Regions from separate parts of the Homo sapiens genome. Here all the other regions are reported to be linked to region 1. The links are microRNA targets in miRTarBase. Many come from high-throughput screens and were not tested one by one. Region 1 holds a microRNA gene; each other region holds the end of a gene's coding sequence. Distances are between the middles of the regions.

Region 1 (6,137 bases):
AGGATGGTCTCGATCTCCTGACCTCGTGATCCGCCCGCCTTGGCCCCCCAAAGTGCTGGGATTACAGGCGTGAGCCACCGCGCCCGGCCTCAGTGCATATATTTTTAATATCTTGTAGTTACCCTGCTGTATACTGTCATCTTAGGGACCTTTTAAACAATACCAGTATGAGCGGGACCTACCCTGCTGCTCAGTGACCCCAGGCAGTGTGTCCTAAGGTGGTGTGTCCTGAGGCGTGCGACACTCTGTCCTGTCCCAGGCACTGTGGTGGGGGCATCCGGTGTCCAGGTGCAGAGGCAAAAGCTGCTCCCGGGTTTCCCAGAAATGGTTCCGAGGCCTGGGTCCCAGAGAGCCAGTGCAGGTTGGGGGGTGGACCTCTGGCTCTGTGGGGGGGTCTGTTCTGCTCCAGTGGGCCGTGTCTGCCTTGTCATCATCCAGACAGCCACAGCTGGCTCCTGGGTCCCCTCGTCAAGCAGCATTTCCCAGTAACAGTGACTTCGTGGAACACTTAGGAAGCCCTTAAAAACCATCCTCGGACCTCTGAGGCAGGGACTCCAGGGGGCACAGCACCTGTGGTGGGGACAGGCAGGCAGGCTGGATGCGGGGAGGGCCCGGGAGGAGGAGTGAGGAGCCACGCACGGAACTGCTCAGACTCTCCCAGCAAAGGTCCTGGCCCTTGTGCATGCCTTTAGTTACATGTCTGCCTTAGAGGCAAAGACGAGCCGTCACGGGGGACCCACCGGGTCAGGGGTCTGCGGACACGCTTGCAGGAGGAACCCAAGGAAAGGGGGTGGGGGTGGAGCCCCACAGATTGCGTCGTGGGTGGGCGTGGAGCTTGCACAGCAGGCCTGCTGCTGCCTCCCAGGGCGCTGGTTCACAGCACGGTCCCAGCAGGGAGAGGCTGAGCCGGTTGGACTAGACCACCCAAGGTCTCAGGTTGCAGCTCCCTGGTGAGGAGAGGACAAGGTGACTTCTGGGTGGGGTGGGGCATGAAGATGGAAGTCTGACCTCGGGTTCCAACTTGACTCAAACGAGCTGAGCTCCTGGAGTTTAGAAAGGGACACCAGCTTCAGACATCGTGGGGGCTGGCATGGTTTGCTCTCGTGGGCTGGATGGGAGCCTCCCTAGCCCCTCCTGATTTCAGGCTGCAGCCTATGGGTCACTCCAGGCACAGGTGGGGTGAGTCAAGATCTCACTGGAGGAGTCACTGAGCAAGAGGGCCGGTGGGAGGCAAGGGGGCATCCAGGGACAAGGGGCCAGCTCTGCCCCCACTTCCCCACCCCACCCACTCTAATACTGCAGCCCCTGTGCTTCCAACTGCCCCCTCCAGCCTGGGGCCCAGCCCCTCACCGCCAGAGACTGCCCGCCTCCTCTTGGGCAAGCTCCTGGTGGGCTCCACTGAAGCCAAAGTGGGCCCTTGGGGGCAGGAGAGCCAGAGCAAGGCACGCTCCACCTAGATTTAGACCGGGAGAGACCTGGAGGATGCCAACCCCAGAGGTCCTGGGGCGAGCTCAGTGCTGGGGACCGGAGGTGCCGTCTGCTGCCAGAATCATGGTGTGCGTGGTCCCTGCCCAGCACGGGTCAGCCAGAGCGAGCCAGGGCAGAAATGACGGCCAGGTCGATGTTCCTGTCGGGGGCTGCTTGTCCCAGGAGGTAATCTGAGTCCTGGCCGAGCCCAAAAAAGCCACTGCCCTTTAGAGCCAGCTGTGAGGGTGCAGGAGGCAGTGCAGAGGGAGTGGGACCCACAGCTGCTAGCCTCCCTCCAAACCCTCCTGCCTCCACCAGACACCAGGTCAGGGGGCCACAAGTGTGGGTGCCGGGCAGCTGCCCCTCAGCTGAGCTGCCGGGCCACCCAGCTCGTGTCCCTCCCCTGCCAGGCTGCAGCTGGGATGGTCACCCGGGCAGCCTGAGTCAGCCTGCTTTCTCTCTCAGGTGAGGCGGAACCAACCCTCCTGGCCATGGGAGGGGCCGTGGTGGACGAGGGCCCCACAGGCGTCAAGGCCCCTGACGGCGGCTGGGGCTGGGCCGTGCTCTTCGGCTGTTTCGTCATCACTGGCTTCTCCTACGCCTTCCCCAAGGCCGTCAGTGTCTTCTTCAAGGAGCTCATACAGGAGTTTGGGATCGGCTACAGCGACACAGCCTGGATCTCCTCCATCCTGCTGGCCATGCTCTACGGGACAGGTGAGGGTGGCCTCACACCGGGCCCCCTGTCCGGGGCTCTGCTGGCGGATCCTGCTGGGCGCGTGTAGCTGGGCTCAGCAACAGGGCCTTCCGCCTGCTCCCCAGGGAACCCTGGAGGGAAGCCCTTGGGGCCAGGATCCTGCTGGGCAGCAACATGCTCTCCACGGGGCCAACCCAGGCAGGGCGCGAAGTCCATCCTGGCCCCTGTCCAAACGGGTCGGCTGTATTTATAGACCGTCTCAGAGGACAGGCTCCTGAGAGCCGTTCCTGAAAAGGTGGCTGTTCCTGAGCTGCAGGGACCCAAGGGGCCCAGCAGGCGGCGCTCACGTGTCATCATGGCCTGCGCTCGGGGAGCCTGCCCACGGGGTGCCCCTGGTGCCCCGCGGGGGGAGGGGTGGTGTGGGAAGGGGAGGCCGGCTCCAGGCTGTGAGCTCAGTCGGCTGGCGGGGGTAGAGCTGGCTGCAGGCCCGGCCCCTCTCAGCTGCTGCCCTCTCCAGGTCCGCTCTGCAGTGTGTGCGTGAACCGCTTTGGCTGCCGGCCCGTCATGCTTGTGGGGGGTCTCTTTGCGTCGCTGGGCATGGTGGCTGCGTCCTTTTGCCGGAGCATCATCCAGGTCTACCTCACCACTGGGGTCATCACGGGTGAGTGGGGCCGGCCGGTGGGCCGCACGTGCCAGGAGGGGCAGGGGCCGTGCACTTCTGCTCCTGGGTCCAGGCCTCTGGAGGACAGCAGGGCGGGTGGCTGCGGGGTGTCCCGGCCCCACCTCGTTGTCCCCCTCTCGAGTGGGTGGGTGGCAGGGGCTCTGCACCCTGGGAGCCTGAGCCTGTGGGAACCTGGGGGCAGAGATGAGGGTCTCGGGCTTTGGGGCAGCCTTGGGGGGCTCTCACCACATTCCCTTTCCTCCAGGGTTGGGTTTGGCACTCAACTTCCAGCCCTCGCTCATCATGCTGAACCGCTACTTCAGCAAGCGGCGCCCCATGGCCAACGGGCTGGCGGCAGCAGGTAGCCCTGTCTTCCTGTGTGCCCTGAGCCCGCTGGGGCAGCTGCTGCAGGACCGCTACGGCTGGCGGGGCGGCTTCCTCATCCTGGGCGGCCTGCTGCTCAACTGCTGCGTGTGTGCCGCACTCATGAGGCCCCTGGTGGTCACGGCCCAGCCGGGCTCGGGGCCGCCGCGACCCTCCCGGCGCCTGCTAGACCTGAGCGTCTTCCGGGACCGCGGCTTTGTGCTTTACGCCGTGGCCGCCTCGGTCATGGTGCTGGGGCTCTTCGTCCCGCCCGTGTTCGTGGTGAGCTACGCCAAGGACCTGGGCGTGCCCGACACCAAGGCCGCCTTCCTGCTCACCATCCTGGGCTTCATTGACATCTTCGCGCGGCCGGCCGCGGGCTTCGTGGCGGGGCTTGGGAAGGTGCGGCCCTACTCCGTCTACCTCTTCAGCTTCTCCATGTTCTTCAACGGCCTCGCGGACCTGGCGGGTTCTACGGCGGGCGACTACGGCGGCCTCGTGGTCTTCTGCATCTTCTTTGGCATCTCCTACGGCATGGTGGGGGCCCTGCAGTTCGAGGTGCTCATGGCCATCGTGGGCACCCACAAGTTCTCCAGTGCCATTGGCCTGGTGCTGCTGATGGAGGCGGTGGCCGTGCTCGTCGGGCCCCCTTCGGGAGGTGAGCGCTGCGCCCCCAGGCAGTTCCCCACACCTGCCCTTCCCGTCAGACGCCCGCTTTGCGAGGGGGGGGACGCGCACCCCTCGGCAGCCACCCGCAGTGTGGGACTCAGAGCTGGAGGGGGTGCACTGTGCTGGACCAACCCTGATTCTGCTGGGGCTAGCGGGTCTCCATTAGGAGTGGGGTGCTCCGTCCGGCACAGTGTGTCCAGACAGGCAGGGTGGCTAGGGGCTGGGCCCGGGGGGGGGCAGCTCCTCCAGGCTCTGCCTGGGCACCACGCGGCAGCTCCAGGCAACCCAACAGCCGGCTTTTGCATTTTGGGGCCTCTCCTTTTTGAAGGATGACTGAGCTAACACGTGAGGGAAATTAAGTTCTGACTGGAGCAGCCTTGCCCAGGCTCCGCCTGCCTGGCGAGGGGGTCCTGGGCTTGGGGAGGGCTCATGTCTTGGAGTCCGCGGTGGCCAGGGCACAGGGCTGGTACTGAACACAGTAGGGCTTCTGGGGCTGCCGACTGGAAGCCTCAGGGGGACTCCGTGGGGACCAGCGTGACTCCTGCCACCAACCGAAACCCAAACTCCACAAAGCCATTGCTATTTTTAGCCTCTTAAGTCTTGGTTCCCCTGAGGAGGAGGGAGGATGCCCCCAGCTGAAACACATGGAGGGGAGAGAACACCTCCCAGCCCCACAAGCTCAGAGGCAGACAGGGTGACCCTTGCGTGCTGAGACACCGAGACACAGGCTTGGGTGGAGCCGTGGGCCCTGGGGGCAGCCCGCATGAGCGGCTGGGACTGACGGGGTCTTCCCGCAGGCAAACTCCTGGATGCGACCCACGTCTACATGTACGTGTTCATCCTGGCGGGGGCCGAGGTGCTCACCTCCTCCCTGATTTTGCTGCTGGGCAACTTCTTCTGCATTAGGAAGAAGCCCAAAGAGCCACAGCCTGAGGTGGCGGCCGCGGAGGAGGAGAAGCTCCACAAGCCTCCTGCAGACTCGGGGGTGGACTTGCGGGAGGTGGAGCATTTCCTGAAGGCTGAGCCTGAGAAAAACGGGGAGGTGGTTCACACCCCGGAAACAAGTGTCTGAGTGGCTGGGCGGGGCCGGCAGGCACAGGGAGGAGGTACAGAAGCCGGCAACGCTTGCTATTTATTTTACAAACTGGACTGGCTCAGGCAGGGCCACGGCTGGGCTCCAGCTGCCGGCCCAGCGGATCGTCGCCCGATCAGTGTTTTGAGGGGGAAGGTGGCGGGGTGGGAACCGTGTCATTCCAGAGTGGATCTGCGGTGAAGCCAAGCCGCAAGGTTACAAGGCATCCTCACCAGGGGCCCCGCCTGCTGCTCCCAGGTGGCCTGCGGCCACTGCTATGCTCAAGGACCTGGAAACCCATGCTTCGAGACAACGTGACTTTAATGGGAGGGTGGGTGGGCCGCAGACAGGCTGGCAGGGCAGGTGCTGCGTGGGGCCCTCTCCAGCCCGTCCTACCCTGGGCTCACATGGGGCCTGTGCCCACCCCTCTTGAGTGTCTTGGGGACAGCTCTTTCCACCCCTGGAAGATGGAAATAAACCTGCGTGTGGGTGGAGTGTTAGGACCAACGGTTTCCTAGGAGTATGTGGTTTTGCTGTGTGGCCTGTGTCCTGACTCGCACGTCTGCTGATGGCCTGGCTGTTCCTACCGTGGCTCTGTCCTCGCCAGCTTTCCCTGCAGCGGCATAGCATTCGTAGCAGGGGCAGGCGCTGCATGGAGGGGGCTGCGGGGCAGGTGCCTGGAGGCCGCTGTGCCAGGGTGGCCTCTGAAATGTGCCAGGGAGCCCCTACGTGGTGGTTAGATGGGAGCTGAGGTGGAACAAGCCACTTTATTCACTGCTGTGTTTAAGAAACAGGACCCTCCTGCCTTCCCTTTTTCGCCCCTCTGCCTGGCTGGCAGTGTGCGTGGTGTGGTCAGTGCCCAGGGCTGGTCTTTGCACCCTGTCCTCCATCCAGCCCGGCCCAGCGCTTGGGCTTGTCCTGGACACCTAACACCCACCTGCCCTCGTGGCCAGCAGTGGCCTGCGTGGCTGGGAGCCCGGTCAGAGGCCGCCGGGGCCCTCAGTAGGTGCGTCGTGGGCGCTGGGGACGGCAGCGGGTGCCCTGGCGGGCCGCGTGCAGCCGGAGAGATGCCATGTCCCTGCTCCTCTGCAATGAAAAGCAAGCGAAAAGTGCACATCTCAGGTCCAGCTGTCCCCATCTGCCCCTGGCCTTGCGCCAGCTGGGCTTGAGCTCTTGCAGCCCAGGCTCCTGCCTGCAGCCTCAGGGCTGTG
Region 2 (6,137 bases), not on the chromosome of region 1:
GAGGAAAGAAAATATAAACAATGAATGATTTTCAAGGTAAGGAAAAGAAGTTTGGAAGTGGTGCTTTCGGAAAGCAAAAGAAGTTTCTTCCTAATATTGGCAAGCAGCAATGCAGGAGAAATGCTGGATGGTAGACAGGTCTTCATTGCCTTCCATGAAGATGGTAGTGATTTCCTGATGTACTATGAGGAACAATCCCGTAGGGATTTCTTACCAAGGAAACTTTGACCTTTGTGTTTTGGAAATATTAATTAGTAAAGCAAAGCGCCATGAACAGAGAACCATGCTCCGTCGTAATCTTTTACCTCGAACCAGAATTCAAAGCCCCAGGCTGTGAACTCTTGCCTGCAAGTATCTGCTAAGGAAAGCCATTTTGTGTATCTGCCTCCGGTGTGCTGGAATTACCTGTGGACCGCTTATGGATGTCATTAAGATGATCTTCGTGAAATACTTGAACATCATGTCAAGGACCAGAATGAAAGCTACGGTTATTAATGACGAACGCTATAATAGGCATTTGAGATGCCATTTTTGGGCTCATGAAATATTGAGCTTATTTTGAAGATCTAGGATATGCAGGTCCATGTTTGTTTTGGCTATAAACTTGAAGACCGAAGAAGCAGACCATTTTTTTTGAAGAAAGTTGATTGGATATTGACTTTTCTTGTAATGATGTTATTTTATAAAGTGACCCACTATATTAATTTGGATTTTGTGTTTACTCTTTAGAGAAATGCTCTATTCAGATCCGATTGGGAAGTTTATGTTTGGATATTTATTCTATTTAAATTTTTATCTCAATCTCACTACTTGATGTTTCTTTGATATCTTCTAATAGAAGATGGATGCAAAGCTATCGCAACTTCACTTTTAAGAAAAAATTAGCTATTTTAAAATTTTGGATCATTTTCTGCAATATAATTTTCAATAATTGTACAATATCTTCTTTTGAGAAATATTCATCTCTTAAACAGCATTGATTCTAGGATTTTGGAGGTACCATTATTACAAAACAATTAAATGGAAGAATCTAAAGTGTATAAAATCATTTTCAGTATAGTTTAGGTAAGGTAATCAGCTAGTCAGAGATCTGTGCTGTGTCAACAAACCTTGTCTAAATTTCTTTGCATTTCTCTTTTCTTTTGCTTCAGAGGAGTCCCAGGAAGGTGAGAAACCTACAGTCTCAAATTCTTGTAGTCTTAAACTCTTTAGCTTCGAGGCACTCTGATTCATTCTCCTAACAAATCACTTCATGTTTTAGGTGTTTTCCAAACTGTTTGAAGTTACTAGACGTCGAATGGTTCACCGTGCTCTTTCATCAGCACAGCGACAGAGACTGTCATCCAACAATAACAAGAAGAAAAATTAGACAGTATTTTTAACCTTTTTCTCTATCTGAAGTGTTCACACTTACACATGTAGGACAATAAGCAGGACCGTCTGGGCCGGTCTGCATAAATGCTGTATACATACCAGATTTGATGCTGCATATAGGGTATGGAATTGCACATCCATCTCATAGGAATTGTAAATGGTTTGAATAAGAGGAAAGTAATTTTTGTTGCATTATAAAATGTCTAGTAGCATCATAAGTTTTTTTGAGAGAAGCATCTTTTTATTTCCCATATTCCTGGTTATTTTCATCATTGCTTTGAATTGAATTTTTATATCTATTTTTATATGTAACTCTTTTTTTACCTCATGTTTTTGTTTGTTTTGCACATTTCTCATACCACAGGTATTGAAGCCCCTGGGTGATAATTTGATGGAGGAAAACATAAGGCAGTCTGTAACAAACTCTATCAAAGCAGGCCTGACTGACCAGGTGTCTCATCATGCCAGATTAAAGACAGACTGACAGTTCATCTCCTCACGGACTCCACTCTCTTTTTTTTTCATGCTTGCTGTACAATGAGAACTCAAATAAAAATAAACCAAAGTTTACAATCAACTGTAGAAGTAGTTTAGTGTAACTGGCTTCACAGATGGCTGCCACAGAGTGTGAAGATTGTTTGTTAGTTTTAAGCATTCTTTTAATGGCTCCTAAGACATGCAGATGGACTGAGGAGCATTGGTTAATCATGCACCTTTGTGCCATGTTTAACTCTTTTATTTCTTTTTACTTAATCTAATGTTAGTGAATTTGTCTTATGTAAAAGGATATTTCAGGGAAATATTTTCAGAAATCTATTTAGAGTCTCTTTAACACAGTGTCCCATTGAAATTTTAATTTTTAGAGAATTTATGAATCACTGTTTCAAGAACCAGATTGGAAAGACAATGAAGCCTTTATTGAGCCACTACATTAAAAGTATATATTGCTTTACTGCCTTCAATACCAGTATTACATCAATGCATGTATCAGAAACTTCACAGAAATTACATGGCAACTCTTGTAGCTAAGAAAGTAATTCTGAGGTGTACATTTGTCTTGCCTTTTTAAATTTATAAACTTGCCCTAAAAGGAGATGCATATCTGGGAAACTGAACTGTCTTTTTGCAGTTTAGCCTTCATGTATATAAAATATGCCATTAATTTTATTGGGGAAGAAATTCCATCCAAAAATGTTGCCTACAGCTATGAGTTAAGAGTGTCTGTACAGTGTGTAGCTTTTATTTTCTAAAATCACAGATAGGGCATGTATATGACTTATAAATATATAAATACGATTTTGTATTAAAAGTTTTGTAGTTTATGGCAAAATCTGGTCCTGTGGTAGGCTAAATAAGTACTGTCCCTGTGAAAGGAATGTTTGTGGCTCATGTCAGTGTGTGAATGCATAGACAATTTGAAGTTTTTGATATATTTGTGATATTTATCTTGAGCACTGCAATCTCACCCCCCCCCCGCCCACCAAGGGAATTCAATGGGAATGTTTATTGTGACTTTGTCCTCTGTTGCATTTTAAAGTTATTTCCTGTAATTTATTTTCAGTACATAATTAAAAATTTGTTGTATATATAAAATGAAACTTGTGATTCTTTTTTAAGGAATTTTTCAAGTATGTATTCCACTTCATAAACCACATTTGTTTATAGTGAAAAGAGCATGAGCAGGAAACACCCCAGTTGAGAGCTCTAAGGCATTGTACCTCAAAACTAAGCTTGTAAAAAGTTACTTTTCTGTGTCTGTCTCTATAAGGGAAAACCTATGATTAGCCTAGTTGTAGATGGGGATTGTTAATTTCTTTCTCTCTCTTTTTTTTTTTTTGGTGGTATATGTAAGGCTAGCATTTTTTCAGTACTTTTGTGGTCTTCTTTGTGAACACCGATTAAAGTACCTAGTTTTGTTTGTTTCTTTTTTGAGACGGAGTCTCTCTCTGTCACCCAGGCTGGAGTGCAGTGGTGCGATCTTGGCTCACTGCAACCTCCACCTCCTGGGTTCAAGTGATTCTCCCGCCTCAGCCTCCTGAGTAGCTGGGACTACAGGTGCGTGCCACCATTCCCGGCTAATGTTTTCTATTTTAAGTAGAGATGGGGTTTCACCGTTTTAGCCAGGATGGTCTCAATCGCCTGACCTTGTGATCCGCCTGCCTTGGCCTCCCAAAGTGTTGGGATTACAGGCGTGAGCCACCGCGCCCGGCCCTTAGTTTGCTTTTTAAGCGAAGAGAATGCAGGTGTTGAGTTGCATGTGTGAAAACTCTGAATTTACTTTGGTTGATACATCTTCGCTCCCACTCCCATTCAGATTCTGTTTTTATATGGATTGTATTTGTTTTCATCTGTATTAAATTGCTAACTTATCTGTTCTTAAAGAATCCACCTGAAAAGTGTCTTTTTATTTCTTCTGCCACCCTGTTTTATGAATGCTGTGGACTGTTTTTTATGAATGAAAAAATAATTTGTTGTATAATAGCAGATTTTCTGAAATTAAAGACAGCTTACTTTTAAAAAGTTATAAAATCTAGACCATTGGCTTTCTTACATTTCTTGTCAGAAAAGAGTGCTTTACTCAAAGAAGACAATTCTCTACAGGATTTAAGTCCATTTCACACTTTTAAGCTTTAGCCTAAACATTCATGTCCTGGATTCCCTCCTTTCCTCTAACTTGACCAGAATGGATCTGCGCATCTCAGGTTTTTTCCATTCGTGTGATAGTCGTGGAGTGAGGATGAAAATTAGCTTGAGTTGCTGTGCATCTGGTAGCCATCTTCTCACTTGGCCAGAGATTACTCATCAAATGACTATTGTACTTGGATTCTGTTGGGAGCCTCTGCCATAAAGAGAATGCGACTTTGGGGAGTCTTCCAGTTATTGGTTCCTGTCAAAGCTAGATTGGGGGTTTCCCAGGCAGCACAGAGAATTGCTCCCTTACCTTCTCTACTGAAGTCTTAGATCCTAGGAACTCCTGTCTTTCAGATTTACATTTTGCTGGAAGTTAGACCGAGGAATTGAGCTGCCCTTAATGTACTCAGTGAAATACAACTTTTATATCCTTTTAGGATCGTGAAATCTGCAGCCAAATGTATCAGCTGAATAGGTCCAAACTGCCTAGAGATACACATGAAAGGGCTTAGGGGAGGGAAGTCACAGCCTTTGCATAGCTCAATAAGGCACCTCCATACGTATGTTAGTACTCTCCATACTCATGGCAGTCCTGTGTGATAGATAGGAAACCATCAAAAAGAACCTTGGGCATCTCAGGCTTGCAACTTAGGACTCTACTACACACCTCCAGAAGTTTGAATCTGTTTGAAGCTTCAGACAATGATAAGTAATGTTCCCAACTCAAGATGCAAGGACTGTCTTGGCTGCATTCCTAGAGGCACTAAGTGGAGAAAGTAACATCTTGCTAATACCGAAACAAGCTGAAAATTACCCATAACATTACCACTCTAAAAAATGAATCGATGCAAAAAGTGAAAATGTTCCTGTCCATTTGATTGTACACCTGAGAGAGAACCATTACTTTGGTGTGTGCTATTGAAACCTTCCCTCTGCTTATTGACAAGTCTGTATATGCATAAAACATACTTGTTTTTTGTTTTACATAAAAATAGAATTATCCTGTACATGATGTTTTTTTTTTTTTTTTCATGTAATGGGATATTTTCCTAGGTCATTATGTAATTATTTAATGGTTACTTTGATTCTTAGGGTAGGTGGAGTTTTAAGGAGAGAACAATAGACCTGGGATCATTGCTGAGATGGCTGGGCTCTGTGTCCCCACTCAAAGCTCATCTTGAATTGTAATCCCCATAACCCCCATAATCACCAGGTGGAACTTGGTGGGAGATGATTGGATTGTTGGGGGCAGTTTCCCCCATGCTGTTCTCGTGATAGTGAGTTCTCACGAGATCTATTTGGTGGTTTTATAAGGGGCTCTTCCCTCTTCACTCATTCAATCTGTCTCACCTGCTGCCACGTAAGACGTGCCTCTTTGCCTTCAGCCTTGATTGTAAGTTTCCTGAGGCCTCCCCAGTCGTGGAACTGTGAGTCAAACCTCCTTTTATAAATTACGCAGTCTTGGGTATGTCTTTACAGCAGTGTGAAAATGGACTAAAACAACTGCTAAGAGTTTTCTTTTTATGACAGTTTTCCTCCTATAATAGGATTGTTGAGAGAATCAAATAAAATGTGAAGAAAGGGTGCTTGGGAAGCAGGTACAAGAACAGAAAATCGTGCCCTCAATTTTGCTTGTTTTAAGGCTGCATCTTCTGACTGTTTGGCCACCTGTACTTGAAGCTTGTCCATAACTTACTCCCCGACCACCCCCACCCCATCCCCGGCATTTGGGCTGTTATTTAAGAGTTCTCTAACTTTCTGACAAATTTTTATGGTAATTAGTAAACAACATACTCATTCTGGCCAAATGGGTCTGCAGCCCCTGACAAGAGAGGTCATCTAAAATGGCATGGTTTAGACTTGCCCGTTACAAAACATGAAGACTACCTAAAAACTCAACCTAGATCTGGAAGAATGCTTAAATTTCAATTCTAAGCAAAGGAGATGACCTTATGGTTAAAACTGAGCTTTGTTTCTAGCTCCACCACGCAAGCTTCATGAATTTGTGCTAACGCTTATATAGCAGTTGAGCCTCAGCTTCTTCATCTATAAAATAGGAATAATATTACCCCTCACAGATGTTAGGAGGATGTGATGAGAATTTCCACATCCTGGCAGACTTTTAAATCTTT
Region 3 (4,000 bases), 6.4 Mb from region 1:
TCTCGGGCAGCCAAGCCCCCGGGTGTGGCCCTGGGCATGTCCCAGCCCTTTCTGGGCCTCATTTTCCCCATCTGGGGATTACAAGGTCAAATGAGACTGGGCGAAGCCTCTCTGAGGGGTGGGTCTTGTGGCAGCCTGGCCATGCCCCATGCAGAGGTGGACTCAGCCTGCTCTCTCACCTGCCAACAGGGGTCTGGGAGCACACTGTTGAGCTCGGTACCTCAGTTTTCCCATCCCAAGGGGCTGCAGTGAGGATCAAGGGAACTCCTCGCTCAACTTGGGGCCAGACCCATGGATGGTGACCACGATGCCCCTTTCCCTGCAGGCCGTGTTCCACATGCAGTCGGTGAAATGCCTTAAGTGTCAGGAACAGAAGCGGGCAGTGCTGCCGTGCCAACACGCTGCGCTGTGTGAGCTCTGCGCTGAGGGCAGCGAGTGCCCCATCTGCCAGCCTGGCCGGGCCCACACCCTCCAGTCGTGACCCTGCAGGCCTGGCCCAGCCTGGCCCAGATCTTCTCACCTAGGACTTTTTAAAGTATATATATATATATGAATATATATATATATGTGTATGTATGTATGTATATGTATATGATTATGTATATGTATACATTTCCGTATGTATGTATATGTATACATTTCCGTATGTGTGCAGGTATGCGTGGTGGTGTGGACAGTGTCTGTGTGTATATCTGTACATAGATATAGACACACACTTTAAAAGACTTACCAAGCACTTTTTAAAAGAAGAAACTATTTTGCAGTCCTCCCCTACCCACTCCCTGCCCTTCCCACTGCAGAGATGACATCCCCTCTTCTCCCACTGGCCTTTTGGCAGAGAATCTGGTTCTGTCTCTTTTTTAATGTAGGAACTAACTATTTTTAACTTCTTCCTGGGGCCTGAGCAGGGAAGGGTGGGACTGGAAGGCACTAAGGGGAAGGGAGAAGCCCTCAGGGCAGGCCCTGCTCCCCCTACCTCCTTGCCAGGGCAAGGGTGGAGTGTGGAAGACGTGGGTCCCCCAGAGCAGGCCTGGCCCCCAGCTGTGAGGGCCTCAGGGAGGCCCGAGGGGGAGTGCTGGGGGTCTCAGCTGGCTTAGCTCCTAAGTTTACCAAATGTTAATTTAGTCTTGGGGAGAACAGCAAGGGCTGGAGGCCAGTGCTGCAGGGCCAGCCCCACTCCTGACACCTGGGCCCTTGAAGCTCCTTGAGGGGCAAGGCCCAGGAGTTCCAGCCCTCAGGTTCCTGAGGGTCCACCCTCAGTCCTTCCCCCCGCCGCCCCTCCCCGGACTCCCCACAAGAGCCTCCCTGGCCCCAGGGCCGCCTACCAGGCTGGTACTCATTCTATGACCACCGCCCCCAACCAGCTGCCCCCAGCTCTCCCTGCCCCCTCCCCTCTCTGGCAGCTAGCAGGGCAATTGGCGGGGAGGAGTGCGGACTGAGGACTGAGGACCAAGGGGGCCCAGGCCCTGCCCTCCTACCCGGAGGGGCTCCGTTTGCATTCCTTGGTGCTCTCTGAGTGCAGCTGGTGTCCCGCCCTGTTCTGGGCGGACGCCTGTGTGCGTGTGTGTGTGCCTGTCCAGTGTATATTGTGTCTTAGCTTCCATTTTAAAAATTGTTCTGTACAGAGAGAGATGCAGCAGGGGCGGGAGGGCAGAGTGGGCGGAGGGGAGCAGCCGCACCCCCAGCACCGGGTGTCTGCGGTAGGAACAAGAGGGCTGAGAGGGTCTGGTCCTGGCCCAGGCTCCCCCTTGGGCTCAGCACGAAAGGGCTTTCAATGAATTAAGTGAAAACTTTTTCCTTTTTTACAAAAATGCAAAAATCAACAAAGCTCCAAACCTATTGGAAATAAAATATGAACTTGCAGTGGTAGCTTGTTTACATGGGGGTGAGGGGGAGTGGGTCCCAAAAGAGGGCCTCTGAACTATGAGGTGGGCCAGGAGCCTTGCCTCAGCCATGGAAACGGCTGCTGCCCACACCCCTGAGCTGTGGTAAGGCAGCTGGAGAGGGCTGGAAACTTCCTGGGCCCATCAGGCCCCAAGACAGTTCAAGTGCTCTCCGACCTAGGCCTAGCGGTTGATGACACAGGGACCCTTAGCCTTGGACACAGAGGCCCCCCAGGCCCTAGGACTCTTTAGGGCTGTGTGGTCAGCGGTGACTGGCAATAGGGCCCGTAACTGTTTCTCAGAGGAACAGTGTCTTCCCAACTGGGCATGGTGGCGCATGCCTGTGGTCCCAGCTACTAGGGAGGCTGAGGTGGGAGGATCACTTGAGCCCAGGAGGTCGAGGCGGCAGTGAGCCATGATTGCACAGCTGCCTCCAGCTTGGGTGACAGAGTGAGATCCCATCTCAAAAACAAAAACAGGCCGAGGCGGGCAGATCACTTGAGGTCAGGAGTTCGAGACCAGCCTGGCCAAAATGGTGAAACCCCGTCTCTACTAAAAAAAAAAAAAATACAAAAATTAGCCAGGTGTGGTGGCACATGCCTGTAGTTCCAGCTACTCAGGAGGCTGAGGCAGGAGGATCCTTTGAACCCGGGACGCAGAGGTTGCAGTGAGCTGAGATTGCCCCATTGCACTCCAGCTGGGCGACAGAGTGAGACTCCATCACAAAAACAAAAAACCCAGTGCCTTCCCATTGGGATGATTTGCTGGTAGGACCCAGAGGAAGTCCTGCCTTCTGCCTTCTTCACCCTACCCTGCCCCTGAGGGATGAGGGGCTGAGGCCTAAGAGGTACGTCCTCCCTCCCACCTCCTCAACTAGGCTGTGCGGTGGGGGGTGAGAAAACACCCTGGTGGGATCCTCTTTGCATGGTCTCGGGCCTTGGATGTCATCTCAGCTAACCTCGACTCCTGTCCTCATTTTGTGCAGACTCAGAGGTTCCGACATGGAACCAGGGTCACACAGCTAGGATGACGTGATGACCAGGCCTCAGGTTCTGACACCCCCCAGGCAGGGGAGGGACCCAGCTCCTCTACGCCCTACTGTCTCAAGAGCAGCCCCTCAGCCTCAACCTGCACCCCTGGGAGGCCCCTGCTCACTGTGCTCCCCCGAGGAACGGGTCCCTGTCCTGGGTGTCACCACAGGAACTGGTATGCCTGGTAAAGCAATTTATTCAAAGCCCACGGCCAAAAATCACCCTAGCCCTGCCTCTGCCTCAGTTATTTCCACACCTACCCCCCTGCTTTGTAGCTACCCCAAGGTGGCGGTAGCTCAAAGTCCCCTGAGGGCTGGGGAGGAAGCTACCCGGCCTGGCTCGCATTCCAGGCCCCACTGTAGGCCAAAGGCATATTTTAAGAGGACAATGGATTTGTTTTTATTAATTTTTTTGCTAAGAAAGTTTCTAGGTGGCAGGTGCTGTCCGGGGAGGGGGCGTGCGCAGCAGACACAGCAGCCAAACTGTCCTTTCTGCTTCCGTCTGTCTGTGCCAGCCCTGCCGCCTGCCAGCTCTTGCTCCCTCAGAGCCAGAAGGTTCTTGGCTCCAGGCTTCCTGGCCTGGATGCTGGCAGCCCCTGGGGAGAGGACCCAGGCCCCCTCTAGTAATGGCCACCACCCTCCCCCCAGGGCAGCTGGAGCCTCATCTTTGGCAGGGTCCCCTCTCCCTTTTCCAGGAGACTCTGTGCCTGTAGCCCTGGTCCCAGTGAACCTGGCCCCCACCCCAGTGGCTGGAACAGGAAGGCCAGGAGGCAGATGGGCCAGGGCCAGGAGACAGATGGCCCAATCCCCTGCCCACCACAGCAGCTTTTCTGAGAGGCGGGCAGGGGCAGGGTTTGCTCCCCCTGGTGCTGGGATGTGGTAGAGACATTGCAGCCAGGGCTGGAGGCAGGGAGGCGGGAGTAGAGATGTCGCTGCTGAGCCCCCATCACCATGGGAGGCAGGGGAGGTCTGCACTCTGGGCACTCCGCATGCTGGGGCTCCCCAAGTGTTAGGCCAGGCTGGAGGGCCGCGATGTGGCGGGGAAGCCCCAGACCCTACAGGAAAGCCCTTGCAAGTCCCCACCGGG
Region 4 (6,137 bases), not on the chromosome of region 1:
CGCCGGCTTCTCGGCTTCACCCCCCAGGCCCATCTGGCCCGCGGCGGCCGCTGGAAGGAGTCCCCACGGAAGCTGGTCGTGGGCGAGCTGCAGGACGAGCTGATGAGCGTGCGTCTGCGCGAGGCCCAGGCCCTGGCCGAGGGCCGCGAGCTGCGGCAGCGCGTGGTGGAACTTGAGACGCAGGTGGACTCGGGGGGCCTGCTCGTTGGGGAAGGGGCGTGGTGTCCGTGGCCAGCCCCTGAGTTAGGCCCTGACCGCCGCCGTCCTCCGTCCTCCCTTCCTCCCTATCCCAGGACCACATCCACCGCAACCTTCTGAACCGCGTGGAGGCGGAGCGCGCGGCGCTGCAGGAGAAGCTGCAGTACCTGGCTGCACAGAACAAGGGGCTGCAGACGCAGCTCAGCGAAAGCCGCCGCAAGCAGGCCGAGGCCGAGTGCAAGGTGCAGACCCCCGCGGCCCCGCCCTGCCCGTGGCACCGCCCCCGGACGCGCCCCTACATGAGGCCCCGCCCCCAATCCGCCTCTGCCGGCGTCCTGCCTCCCGATCTGCCCCTGCCCGCGGTCCTCCCGCCCCCGCCCGCGGCCCCGCCTCCTGACCTGCTCCTGCCCGCGACCCCGCCTCCTGATCCGGCCCCGCCTCCTGACCACCCCCCCCCGCGGTCCCGCCTCCTGATCCGCCCCCGCCCGCGGCCACGCCTCCTGACCCGCCCCCGCCCGCACCTCCCTTGCCCGCGGTCCCGCCCCTGCCCGCGGTCCTGCCTCCTGACCCGCCTCCGCCCGCGGCCCCGCCTCCTCATTCGCCCCTGCCCGCGGTCCCGCCCCCTGATGCGCCGCGCCCCCTGACCCGCCCTCCTTTCCCCCCAATCCCCCGACCCCAGAGCAAGGAGGAGGTGATGGCTGTGCGACTGCGGGAGGCGGACAGCATGGCTGCGGTGGCCGAGATGCGGCAGCGCATTGCCGAGCTGGAGATCCAGGTGATCGGCGGGGCCGGGGTCGGGGGGCGGGGGCGGGGGCAGGGCCCGGGGCAGGAGCGGGGCCGGACCCCAGGCCCAGCATGGCACTGGCCCCGCGTGACCTGGCGCACCCCGCAGAGGGAGGAAGGCCGCATCCAGGGCCAGCTGAACCACTCGGACTCATCGCAGTACATCCGCGAGCTCAAGGACCAGATCGAGGAGCTGAAGGCCGAGGTGAGCCGGCGCGGGGATGCCGGGGACAGGCCTGGGTGTCGTCGGCCTGGGACGAGCCGAGCGCAGGTGCCTTGCGGAGGATGCGGCTGGGAGGGCGGGGCAGAAGGCCGGTCCACGCCTGCAGCGCCGGTCCCCCGCCCCAGGTGCGGCTGCTGAAGGGCCCGCCGCCCTTCGAGGACCCGCTGGCTTTCGATGGGCTGAGCCTGGCGCGGCACTTGGACGAGGACTCGCTGCCGTCGTCGGACGAGGAGCTACTTGGCGTAGGCGTGGGCGCTGCCCTGCAGGACGCATTGTACCCTCTGTCCCCGCGCGATGCGCGCTTCTTCCGCCGTCTGGAGCGGCCGGCCAAGGACAGCGAGGGCAGCTCAGACAGCGACGCCGATGAGCTGGCCGCGCCCTACAGCCAGGGTCTGGACAACTGAGGCCATGCCCAGCGCGCCCGGAGTCAGGAGGCCGCAGCCGCGGGGGGCGCCCGGGCAGTCCGCGTTCTGCTCCCCACCTGCCGCACTTGACAAACTACGCGCCCTCTGTGGCTCGGCCACCCCTAAAGCGAGGCCCGGCGAGGCAGCGCAGAGGGTAGGGTCCGACCTGGGCTCCTCAGGGCCCCGGGGCAGGCTCTCTATCCCCAGCAGTGTTTACCCATCTTGGTCTGTACCCCTCCGGGCCCTCTGGCGTTCCAGGGGTGCCTGGAGGGGCTGACTGCTCTCTTAACAGGAGGGCAGAGGGCAGGGGACAGACGACCCAGAGGTCCCAGCACTGAATGAGCAGGCAGCTCCCACCTCCTGGCAGGCTTCCTTCTGGGACAGGGGCGACATTGCTGGGAAGTGCTCAGGAGGTAGCCGAGGCCTGAGGAAGGAGAGCGCCAGCTCTGGGCTGGACATCAGCACCCCACAACACTCCTCGGGATGAAGTGACCCTTGACTAGCCCCTGGCCATCTCTAGGGGAGTCAGGCCGCTGGGGACAGATGGCCAGGCCGGCCTCTCCTGCCTGGCGCAGGCACCGTGGCCCCTGCAGCGGAAACCAAAGTCCCCCTACTATGTGCGGGGCGCCTGGGGACTGAGTGGCTAACGGGAAGCCTCCCTGCTTCTCTGGGGCCAGAGCAGCTTCCAGGAAGTGAAGAGACCCCTCTCCCCAGTGCCCCACATCTTTCTCTGGGAGACACTCGCGCCCCCTATCCTGGCCAGTGATGGAGGGGTATCTCTACAGGGGTCCTCGGTCTCCATCTACTTCCCTTTCTTCATGTGTTTCCAGCCCCACCCTCAGCCAGAGCCAGGCCCCCAGGCAGGAGCTTCCCAGCGAGCGGCCTCCCCTCACTTCCTCCTGGTGGTCCCGTTGTCTCTGCTGAATCAGAGCTGAGAACGGTGCCAAAATCCAACGATGCCCCCCAGGCCCCTTCCTCCCTTCCCCCGGCCCCCCGGGCCTCATGACCCTGGGGGCTGCCCCCCTCGGTGCTCCCGGAGCCTCCAGTAGAGTAGCGTCACAAGCAATCTCCCTGGCGCTTCCTGGGTGGGGACCCCTGCTCCGTCCCCGCTTCCTAGCTGCCCACTTTTCAGTGTTACGAAGCCTGGGGACCGGGGCAGGCACCCACGGGGCTCTCCACACGCCCCCTACACTGCCCGCCACCATTTTGCACACTGCCTGTTCACATGTCGCCCAGGCGGGAAAAATGGAAAATAAAGTGTATTTACACAGTCACGGACTGGCCTGCGGGCTGGGAGGAGAATCACAAGCAGCGGTGGGTGCCCAGCCCAGGGACCAAAAACCGTGCTGAGGGAAGGTGGGGCTGTCCTTGCCCTTAGGAGCTCCCCACAGTCTCATAGAATGGGGGTGGGAGAGGATAGAAGGGCATTCAGTTTGGGGGCAGGGCATGATTTCCCACCTGGGTGAATCAACTTGGGCCTCCCCTGAAGGAGAGAGGCATGCCGAATCGCTGGGCTTCAGGAAGCACAGGACCCGGTTGCATTCATTCTGCTCACGCCTCCAGGGGTAATGTGGGGTACTCTGCCCTGTGCCTGGCTCTGAGGGGGTCTCCAGTGGAGCAGAGGAGACAGGCACTGGGCAGGGGGAAGCCTGCACTAATGTGGTAGGTGCTCAATAGACAAATGTGCAGGGAGATCAGGGAAGGCTTCCTGGGGGAGGTGGTGTCAGGGCCTCTTCGAGGGGTAAAAGCATAAAGATCAGACCAACAGGAGGCATACCATACCTAGGAAGGAAGAACAGGAAAGCCTGGGCGTGGTCAGACTAAGAAGGGACTGCTTACGTCAGGTGAGGGAGTTTGGGCTTTGAACTGGGGGCCATTGGGAGCCCATGGAGGGCTTAGGTAAGAGAGCCCCATCAGATGGACCACAGAGTCTGTGAGGGGGCCAGTGCAGGGAGGACAGTGAGTAGGGGGCAGAAATAGTCCTTTGTGGGGTTCCCCACAGAGCTGAGGCAGAGTCCCAGCTGCTGGGTGGCGGTGGGTGGCGGGGTGGAGGACAGAGCCAGGAGTGGCAAAGCAAAGCTTCCTAGAGGAACTCAAGGCAGTCGACTCACTGAAACGTCCATCTCCTGGGTTCCAGTGATTCCCCTGCCTCAGCCTCGAGAGTAGCTGAAACTGTAGGCACCTACGACCGTGCCTGGCTAATTTGTTTCGTTTTGTTTTTTGAGAGGGAGTCTCACTCTGTCACCCAGGCTGGAGTGCAGTGGCACGATCTCGGCTAACTGCAACCTCTGCCTGCTGGTTTCAAGTGATTCTCCTGCCTCAGCCTCCTGAGTAGCTGGGACTACCGGCGCCTGCCACCACATCTGGCTAATTTTTTTTTTTTTAGACGGAGTTTCACTCTTGTTGCCCAGGCTGGAGTGCGATGGTGCGATTTTGGCTCACTGCAACCTCTGCCTCCCAGGTTCAAGCAATTCTCCTGCTTCACCCTCCCAAGTAGCTGGGATTACAGACATGTGCCACCACACCTGGCTAATTTTGTATTATTTTTAGTAAAGATGGGGTTTCACCATGTTGGCCAGGATAGTTTTGAACCCCTGACCTCAGGTGATCCACCCGCCTCCCAAAGTGCTGGGATTACAGGCATGAGCCACTGTGCCCGGCCCAATTTTTGTATTTTTTTTTTTAAGTAGAGACTGGGTTTCACCATATTGGCCAGGCTGGTCTCAAACTCCTGACCTCAGGTGATCTGCCCTCCTCGGCCTCCCAAAGTGCTGGGATTACAGGCGGGAGACACGGTGCGCAGCCCCTAGAGGCAGAAACATAATTGGGTTCAGGCAGATGCTAGCCAGGACCTGCCCTCTGCACCCAGTGTGGGTCCACAAAGTGCTCCCTACCCCCATGCCTCACAGCCAAGCAAAGGACATGACACTGCTTGTGTACTGAGACAGCCAAGTCCCATGTACTGTCGTATCACATGCCACAGCTCTCCTGGCCACACATGGTGCAGATGTAACCCTGGGGACCCTCACAGTCACTGTCCGTGCCTCCTGCTTCCATGGTAATTCCACCCCCGCTGGCTGCCCAGGTCAGGGCAGGACCGCAGAGGAATTGTCTGAGGTTCTGCCCTGTCCTTCCCGGCAGCTGGCCTTGAGCCCCAGCTCCCCAGCATGTCAGGAGTCGGCCTTGGGCTTGTCCCAGAGTCTGGAAACAAAGACACCCAGGTCCCCAACCCCACCAGGGCCCAGCTTGAGAGGACACCTCTATGGTTTGCCACAAAACTCTGACCGAAGGACTGTGCTGGCGTCCTCCTCCTCCACCTCCCAGGGGTGCAGGTGGCAGTGCCCCTCCAGGCCAGAGCCCATTTCTCCTCAGACCCCAGGCTAGGAGGTGCCTTGTCTGGGATGGGGACAGGCAGGACTTGCTGGTCTGTGACTGACAGGAACCTGGTCACAGGATGGTGTGAGGGTACTGGGTCCAGGGGCAGAGGCAGGGCTGAGGGCCCAAGGCCAGATCCTACTCTGTCTTCTTACCCACTTGGGGATGTCACCATCATTCTTGGTGCCATGCAGGAGACCCGGGGGAGGAAAGGCCTAGCAGGGGAGCTCTCTGCAGGGGCACTGGGAACAGGGAGAGACTGGCTAGGGTTTGAGAGGCTCCAGAGCTGGGGGTTAGGGTTAGGGTTCATTGGGGGAGGAAGGGCAGGAAACTCTGATTGGAGGGGGCCTGTGAAGATGTTTGGGAATCTGATAAGGACGCCTGAGGAAGGGGTTAGGGCAAGGATGCCATGGGGGTGGGATGCACCAAGTGGCACTTGTGTAAGGACACTTGGAGACAGGGTGCAGTGTGAGGACTCCCCCATCTCCCACCTAGACCTGGGAGAGGCCACTTCTTCCTGCAATCCCCTACCAGGGCAGTTGGCCCGGGACCCTGCACCAGCCGAAGGGCCATGGGAAGGGGTCCCCCATCCTTGCCTCAGTGCCCTCCAATCTTCCCACCTGTTCCCCAGGAGTGCTAGTTCCCCGCATCGAGTTTGAAAAGTGTGTCAGGCCAGGCGCGGTGGCTCACGCCTGTAATCCCAGGACTTTGGGAGGCTGAGGGCAGATCACCTGAGGTCAGGAGTTCAAGACTAGCCTAGCCAACATGGTGAAACCGTGTCTCTACTAAAAATACAAAAATTAGCCGGGTGTGGTGGCGCGCACCTGTAATCCCAGCTACTCGAAAGACTGAGGCAGGAGAATTGCTTGAACCCGGGAGGCAGAGGTTGCAGTGAGCCGAGATAGCACTATTGCACTCCAGCCTGTGCAAAGAGAGCAAAATTCTGTCTCAAAATAATAAAAAAACAGGCCAGGCGCGGTGGCTTATGCCTGTAATCCCAGCGCTTTGGGAGGCCAAGGGGGTTAGATTACGAGGTCAAGAGATCCAGACCACCCTGGCCAACATGGTGAAACCCTGTCTCTACTAAAAATACAAAAATTAGTTGGGCGTGGTGGCATGTGCCTGTAGTCCCAACTACTTGGGAGGCTGAGGCA
Region 5 (6,137 bases), not on the chromosome of region 1:
CCAAGATCAGGGTGCCAGATTTGGCATCTGATGAAGGCCCACTTCCTAGTTCCTAAGCCTCTGTCTTTTCTGTATAAACCTCACATGGTGGAAGGGGTGAGGGATCTCTCTGGGGCATGTTTTATAAAGGCATTAATCCCATTCATGAGGGCTCCACCCACAAGACCTAATCATCTCCCAAAAGCTCCGCCTCCAATACCATCACCTTATGGGTTAGGATTTCAGCATATGAATTTTGGATGTACATAAACATTCAGCTCTAACCTAGAACAGTTTCATCCTGAAACCATCCCCCTGCCCCTGGTCCATGGAAAAATTGTCTTCCACGAAACTGGCCCCTGGTGCCAAAAGGTTGGTAAAGTTTACATCATTGGCTCTTAAAACTTTTTTCCCCTAGGCTGGTGCAATGGGTCATTCCTACAATCCTAGCACTTTGGGAGGCCGAGGTGGGCAGACTGCTTTGAGCTCAGGAGTTCAAGACCAGCCTGGGCAACATGGTGAAACACCCATTTCTACAAAAAATAAAAAATAAAATAAAAAAAATTAGCTGGGTGTGGTGGCACACACCTGTAATCCTAGCTACTGGGGAGGCTGAGGCAGGAAGATCACTTGAACCCAAAAGGCAGAGGTTGCAGTGAGGCAAGATGGCACCACTGCACTCCAGCCTGGGTGACAGAGTGAGACCCTATCTCAAATTCCCCTAGGATCAAGAAAAAATAAGCTCAGCAGACAGAGCCAATCATGCATGAAGAAATCAGGGAATGTGATCTCAGGGTCATGAAGGTTCACAATGGATCAGTGGAGAAGATGGACTTAGGAATCTAGAATTTTTCTCTGAAAAAGCATACTAGCAAACCCCTAAGGAAAGAGAAAAATTCCAAGCCCACTTAGTGGCCATGAGTCTGTGTTGGTATCACCAGTCTGGGGTTACCAGCCTCACAGAGACAGAGTTTCCCAATTTGGTCCTAGATGGTGGGATCAGTTGTCCCAGCAGCTGAAGACTAAAAACAGCCCTGCCTTTCAGCCCTGGCTTTTAGATCCCAGGCACATTCTCCAGAACCCAGACCCACTGCTCATTTGCATTTGCTCTCCTTTAGTCATTGGTTGGATTGGAAAACGCTCTCCAGAGGTTTGTCCTTAGGGCCTCCCCCTTAGGCACTGGGACCCTGTCTGGAGGCCTACACCAGCCTCTTTCTAGCTTCTCAGAACTACTGGTTTTTTTTTTGCCATTACTTATTTCTGGTGTACACTTTTGGAGAAAGTTTTCCCTTTTAAGTTTTCTCTCTGATAATTTGATGTGTTTACTGCCTATCAGTTTAAATTGGTTGACTCTCTAGTCTCATTTAAGAGATTGTATATGGAAAAAAAAAGTTATAAAAAAAGGCATAATCTAAACCGGTAAGCCTAAAAAGTTTTTTTAAACCTATACTTAGGTTCTGTAAATTTTCATTTGTGATAGCTTTATTTTAATTTCTTTGTTTTATAACCAGGATTCAGCAGAAGGACTCTCCATGTTTACCGGAGAAGAGGAAATCTTTGCATTTCAGCGCACAATTTCCCGACTCACGGAAATGCAGACTGAACAGTACTGGAATGAAGGAGACAGAACCAAGAAGTAACTGCCACTTTTGCATAAATAAAACTCTAGACAAATGGTTAACGCAGGCAGAACTCCTTATTGTGGGACTTGAAGGAATCATTTTCTCATCATTAATTATGCACTTTGTCCTCTGGACCATTTTAATCTAAAATTGCTCTCAAGGATCTAGTGGATTAGTAAGTTAAACACTTAACATTTTTTAGGTCTGCTTTTTCTTATTTGGCCTTATTTCTGCACCATGAAATTAAAATCATCTCATTCCTGAAGATGAATGTAGGACCAGACATTTTAGCTTCACATTAAACCACCTGAATGAACCTTGAATGCACAAGTAAATGCAAGACGTCTGGATACCTTCAAGCTTTGGCTGCATGGTGGTGGCATGTTAGAAATACATCTTTTATAATGGGGGAAGAATGCCCTATGTTTCAATTCAAAACAAAGACAGTTTTCCAATCTGATATAAACTAAAAGGGATAATATTTTAGAATATGGGCTTATATGTGGTTTTTTTTTTTGGTTATGAATTACAGTAAATCTCCCAGGCCTTCAGATTTCTACATAATGGAAGAATATGTTTTTAACCCTGAGATCAAGTTTAGTAGGCAGGACTTGATCTCAAGTGGTCACAAAGTTTTCTAAAAAAAAATAGAAAATTATGATGGGATCAAATAAGGAGCAAGTGTCAAATTCCAGCCAACAGGCAGATCTGCAGGCAGAGCTACAAACTCTGCAGCCAGGAATGGGGACCAGTGAGAGAGTGTGGGCGGGGGGGTGGGTGTCAGAGTCGTAGGCACTCCAACAGCAGAGGAGACTCCCGCTCACATGAGGCCAGCCGTACCCCAGTGGACAGCAGGCTCCTTCTCACTGTTGTAGACACTTGCTCTCCTTGCAGCATGCTGCCCCCGCCCTTGCCGCCAACTCTGCCGTGAGATGGACCTAATAGGAAATAGGAAAGAAAGCCTGACAAGCCTGCTTCACAGGAAATCTGATTTGTCCTTCACTGAGCTCATCTTTTGCTTCTTTGAGTAAAACCTGGCTTTACTAACTATTGTCACAAAGTGGATCTTCGGCTGTGGATGAGTGTGAAAAACAGAAAAAATATAAAATCCACAAAATCTTGTGAAAATTAAGCATTTGGGGGAAGGTAAGGCATAGGTGAGTCAGTCCAATGAATACAATGGTCAACATAAGTAAGCTCTTTGAACCTATTTATTTTCTATTTATTATTATTTTTATTTTTTATATCTTGGCCACTCTAGCCATCTCCTGGCAGGGGTAGTGTGGCACAGCATGGCCCTATTTAATTTCTTAGTCAATAATCCATCACATAGTCTCTTTTAGATATTAACCTAATTAAGGCAAGCAGGTAGATGGATGAGTACCCAAGCCGAGAGAAGAGTTTAAATCAAGCCTTCTGTAAATAAAATGTGGTTTAAAGATATTTTTATTGAAGTGAAACACAGTAATTTCAAAGAGGTTACGTAATAGGGAGAAAGGATGGGAAATAACCACTTTGTGCTGGATTGAATGCTATATATTTACATTAGCTCAGTTAAAAAAAATAGTCTTAGAAAGTGAATATTATAACCCCTGTTTAAAAATAAGAAAACTGAGTCTTGGGAAAGTTAAGTAGCTTGACCTGAGATTCACAGTTTACAACTACAAAACTCATATACTATATTTTATAACACACTGTCTCTTACTCTTACTATTTAAAAAAAAGAGATTGTTTTAAAAATTGATTCATTTAACTCAGTGAATGAAGTTGAAGATAAATTCACAACAGAACCATTGATTTGAACTCAGTGAATATAAAATGTTTAACTTTATTCTTTAGATCTTAGCTTTTTACTTTTCACATTCCTTTGGTAATTATTCTGTATCTTAATTTTTAAAAAAATCATGTGAATGGACAGACAGATAGATGGACAGTATGACCGATAGACAGACCTGTCCCTGAGTGTGAGTGTATGTAGAAGAGTCCCCCTGTCAAGTTATGTTATAAAAGTTCATCTGAGGTCAGATATTGGGAATAAAGTTTCATTTTTCCATCGAAACAATCACGTAATGTTAGTTGGGGTGCTGGTCAAACGCATAGAAGCCTATGTAATTCTCAGTGTAGCTTCCCTATAATGTCATTTTGGTACGAAAGAACTTAAACCCTGAGAAAAAAACTGTAGCTCAGTCTCCACCTAAGTAACTGGAGCATGTGCCCACTTCTGTGCCCCCAATCCGCAATCTCCTTCCCCAGTTCCAGGGGCCTGCTGGGATTGGCTGCAGTGGAAGAGGCTCTTTGAGCTGGGAGAAGGGTTTATGCAGAAAGTGGGGCTAGAAGGCTTTGGCTGGATCTCTGGAGGGGAGGGAGTTCCATGGTGGCTGGAAATCTCCAAAGCTGGTTTCATAAAATAGCATGCAAGAAAAAAACCCAAGTCTTCAAGAATAGCCATCACTAGGAAACAGTATGGTAGCTCTACTAAAAGAAAAGTAATGCCAACATGAAAAACAACCCCTAGATTGGAGAGCAACATTTCACTTTATATGTCTTTCTTCTGAGCCCTGCCCCTATTACATTCTCAGCATTCCAGTCTTTCTCCATAGAAGTCTCTCAGCAAATGCTCTTTTTTTGAAATGCTTTAAATGTATACTTTGAGACGGAGGTTTGAGCTGAGTACTGCTGTGGAAAGCTCCTGCTCAATTCAAAACACAGACCGGGGGGATGTCTTTAGAGTCAGGAGAAAACATCATGTGCCAAGGGTGCTCTCCAAACTGATGACTAGTTCCCAGACTTAACAGAGGTCAAGCGGAGAAAAAGGAAAACTTTCTTTAGAGAAGAAAAAGAAAAATCTTATCACTTCTCATATTTCTTTAGGCAGTGTATGAGCTTATTTGCTGATATCACTAATCCTGAGATGAAAAACAGGATGGACTTAAGTAATTTTTAACCTATTTCTGAGGCCAAAAAGACTGTAGTATTATTTTAATCAAATTTATGCATTTTCAGTGGGACTTCAAATTTTAATAATAAGGCAATACTTTTATCTTCTTAAAGTATATTTCCTGTACTTATAAGTGTGCAAATGACATAATTTTAAAATTAGTTGGAATATTGAAAAAAATTAAAATTTCACTTGTAAAATAAGTGGATGTGCTTATATCCATTTATTTATTTAAGAAACACATGATGTTTTCTGTGTCCTGGGCATGGTTCTATGTGCTTTATAAATAAACTCTTTTGATCCATATAACAGTCTTATGAGATAGGTGCCATTATAATCATTTTATAGACAGGGAAGCTGAGACACAGAAAACAGCTAAAACAGATTAATGAATTGCTAAGATATAACCGAAGTCAATAAAATTAGCAAAGTGCTAACGTATTAAATTTTCCATTTCATTGCCTCTGTCCTGAAAACAGTATTGCTGGTCCAAGTAACTTGAACCTACACTTGACGGCTGCTTTATCTGAGATTAAAAACATGCAGAAGGATTGGGCGCCTGGGTCCCTGACATTTGGGTTCTTGATCAGTTACGGGAATCTGTCTTGCAGCAAGTCTGTAAGTTACCTTTATTAGATTTACTAATCTCAAAAGAAGTCACTTGCTGGTAGGAAAGGATTTTCTTTGGAAATGAGTTTATAACTTCTTTTACAGTCAGAATTAAGATGAATGTTCCCTATTGGCATATAGCAGTTCATTTTTCTGGAACAGAAAATTACAAATGTTAAAATCTGCCCTCTTGTCGAGTGTCTACTGACTCAGTCCAGCAGCTCACTAGGACCCTCACATCTGTTGCCCTAGCTGGTCATTCGGTCCAGTCAAACATGCCTGTCCACTGACCTTTCGTCTGTGCTGCATGGAGCCATCAGTCTGTCTTACCTGCTTGCCTAGGGGGCTTTCTGGATGTCGTCCCGAGAATTTTCCTGTCTCAGGGCTGTACTTTCTGGGTTCCCGGTGGTTGATTGCTGGTCTCTAATGATGCAGTGGAAAGGGCTTGAGATCTGGCATTGGAAAATTCAGTTCTGCTAATTATTGTTTTGTGACCTCGACCAAGATAGTGCTCTGAGCCTCAGTTGTGTCATCTTATAAATGGGAATCATAATGCCCATTTCATAGAGTTACTATGAGGATTGTTGGTGAAAAGCGCTTTGCAAATGGCAAAGGATTAAACGAACATCAGTTGTTATTGATACTAATGATTATGATCATAAATCCTACTTTCTGCTTTGTGTTATAGCCTTTTGAGGAATGCAAAACAGAAGACACATTCCAACCCACTGGTTTCTAACAGAAGGGAAAAGATACGCATTAAATGGCTAGACACCAAGAGCACACGGGTCTGGCTTAATGAGATGCTGGAGAAGATTGTTAAATTCAAATCCATGTTTTCAGGATTAATACAGAAAATGAATTGTTGCTTGTTTGGTGAACATCAAAGATTTCCCAGAAAGAGGGCACCATCTTGTGGTCAGTAGGATGAACTGACAGGAGAAAAAAAAAAGGCCAGTGGTTCTCAAGGCTACACATTCCTAGGCCTA

What was found. Region 1 holds the annotated microRNA hsa-miR-6787-5p (UGGCGGGGGUAGAGCUGGCUGC, at 2,623-2,644, shown strand). A microRNA usually pairs through its seed, bases 2 to 8, with sites in the 3' UTR of a target mRNA and lowers its output. Matches are read on the target gene's strand: a 7mer-m8 pairs with bases 2 to 8, a 7mer-A1 pairs with bases 2 to 7 and ends in A, and an 8mer does both.
Region 2: miRTarBase lists ATL2 as a target of hsa-miR-6787-5p. Seed matches in the 3' UTR shown: 7mer-m8 at 2,846-2,852.
Region 3: the mRNA of UNK is a reported target of hsa-miR-6787-5p. Seed matches in the 3' UTR shown: 7mer-m8 at 1,268-1,274.
Region 4: miRTarBase lists EVI5L as a target of hsa-miR-6787-5p. Seed matches in the 3' UTR shown: 7mer-A1 at 2,803-2,809.
Region 5: miRTarBase lists AFG1L as a target of hsa-miR-6787-5p. Seed matches in the 3' UTR shown: 7mer-m8 at 2,504-2,510.

The regions. Positions count from the first base shown.
Region 1 is chr17:82,234,051-82,240,187 of GRCh38, forward strand. It overlaps MIR6787 (microRNA 6787), which reads left to right and starts at 2,618; the gene lies at 2,618-2,678. It overlaps SLC16A3 (solute carrier family 16 member 3), which reads left to right. Exons shown (of 5, transcript NM_004207.4): 2 at 1,933-2,181; 3 at 2,679-2,822; 4 at 3,088-3,843; 5 at 4,652-6,036. The coding sequence starts at 1,959. The coding sequence ends at 4,926. It also overlaps a transcript of CSNK1D not described here. RefSeq lists enhancers at 2,195-2,384, 3,209-3,980, 4,751-5,521.
Region 2 is chr2:38,291,715-38,297,851 of GRCh38, reverse strand. ATL2 (atlastin GTPase 2) reads left to right here. Exons shown (of 13, transcript NM_001135673.4): 13 at 1,739-3,898. The coding sequence ends at 1,858. Among named protein-coding and RNA genes, the nearest start is that of ATL2, 82 kb to the left of the region's middle.
Region 3 is chr17:75,823,937-75,827,936 of GRCh38, forward strand. UNK (unk zinc finger) reads left to right here. Exons shown (of 16, transcript NM_001080419.3): 16 at 326-1,863. The coding sequence ends at 481. UNC13D (unc-13 homolog D) reads right to left here. Exons shown (of 32, transcript NM_199242.3): 32 at 3,289-4,000. Among named protein-coding and RNA genes, the nearest start is that of UNC13D, 18 kb to the right of the region's middle.
Region 4 is chr19:7,862,095-7,868,231 of GRCh38, forward strand. EVI5L (ecotropic viral integration site 5 like) reads left to right here. Exons shown (of 20, transcript NM_001159944.3): 16 at 28-183; 17 at 294-440; 18 at 878-973; 19 at 1,091-1,186; 20 at 1,330-2,882. The coding sequence ends at 1,608. Among named protein-coding and RNA genes, the nearest start is that of PRR36, 9.2 kb to the right of the region's middle. RefSeq lists enhancers at 1-568, 1,663-2,371 and silencers at 391-660, 4,369-4,663.
Region 5 is chr6:108,520,807-108,526,943 of GRCh38, forward strand. It overlaps AFG1L (AFG1 like ATPase), which reads left to right. Exons shown (of 13, transcript NM_145315.5): 13 at 1,491-5,195. The coding sequence ends at 1,619. Among named protein-coding and RNA genes, the nearest start is that of FOXO3, 37 kb to the right of the region's middle.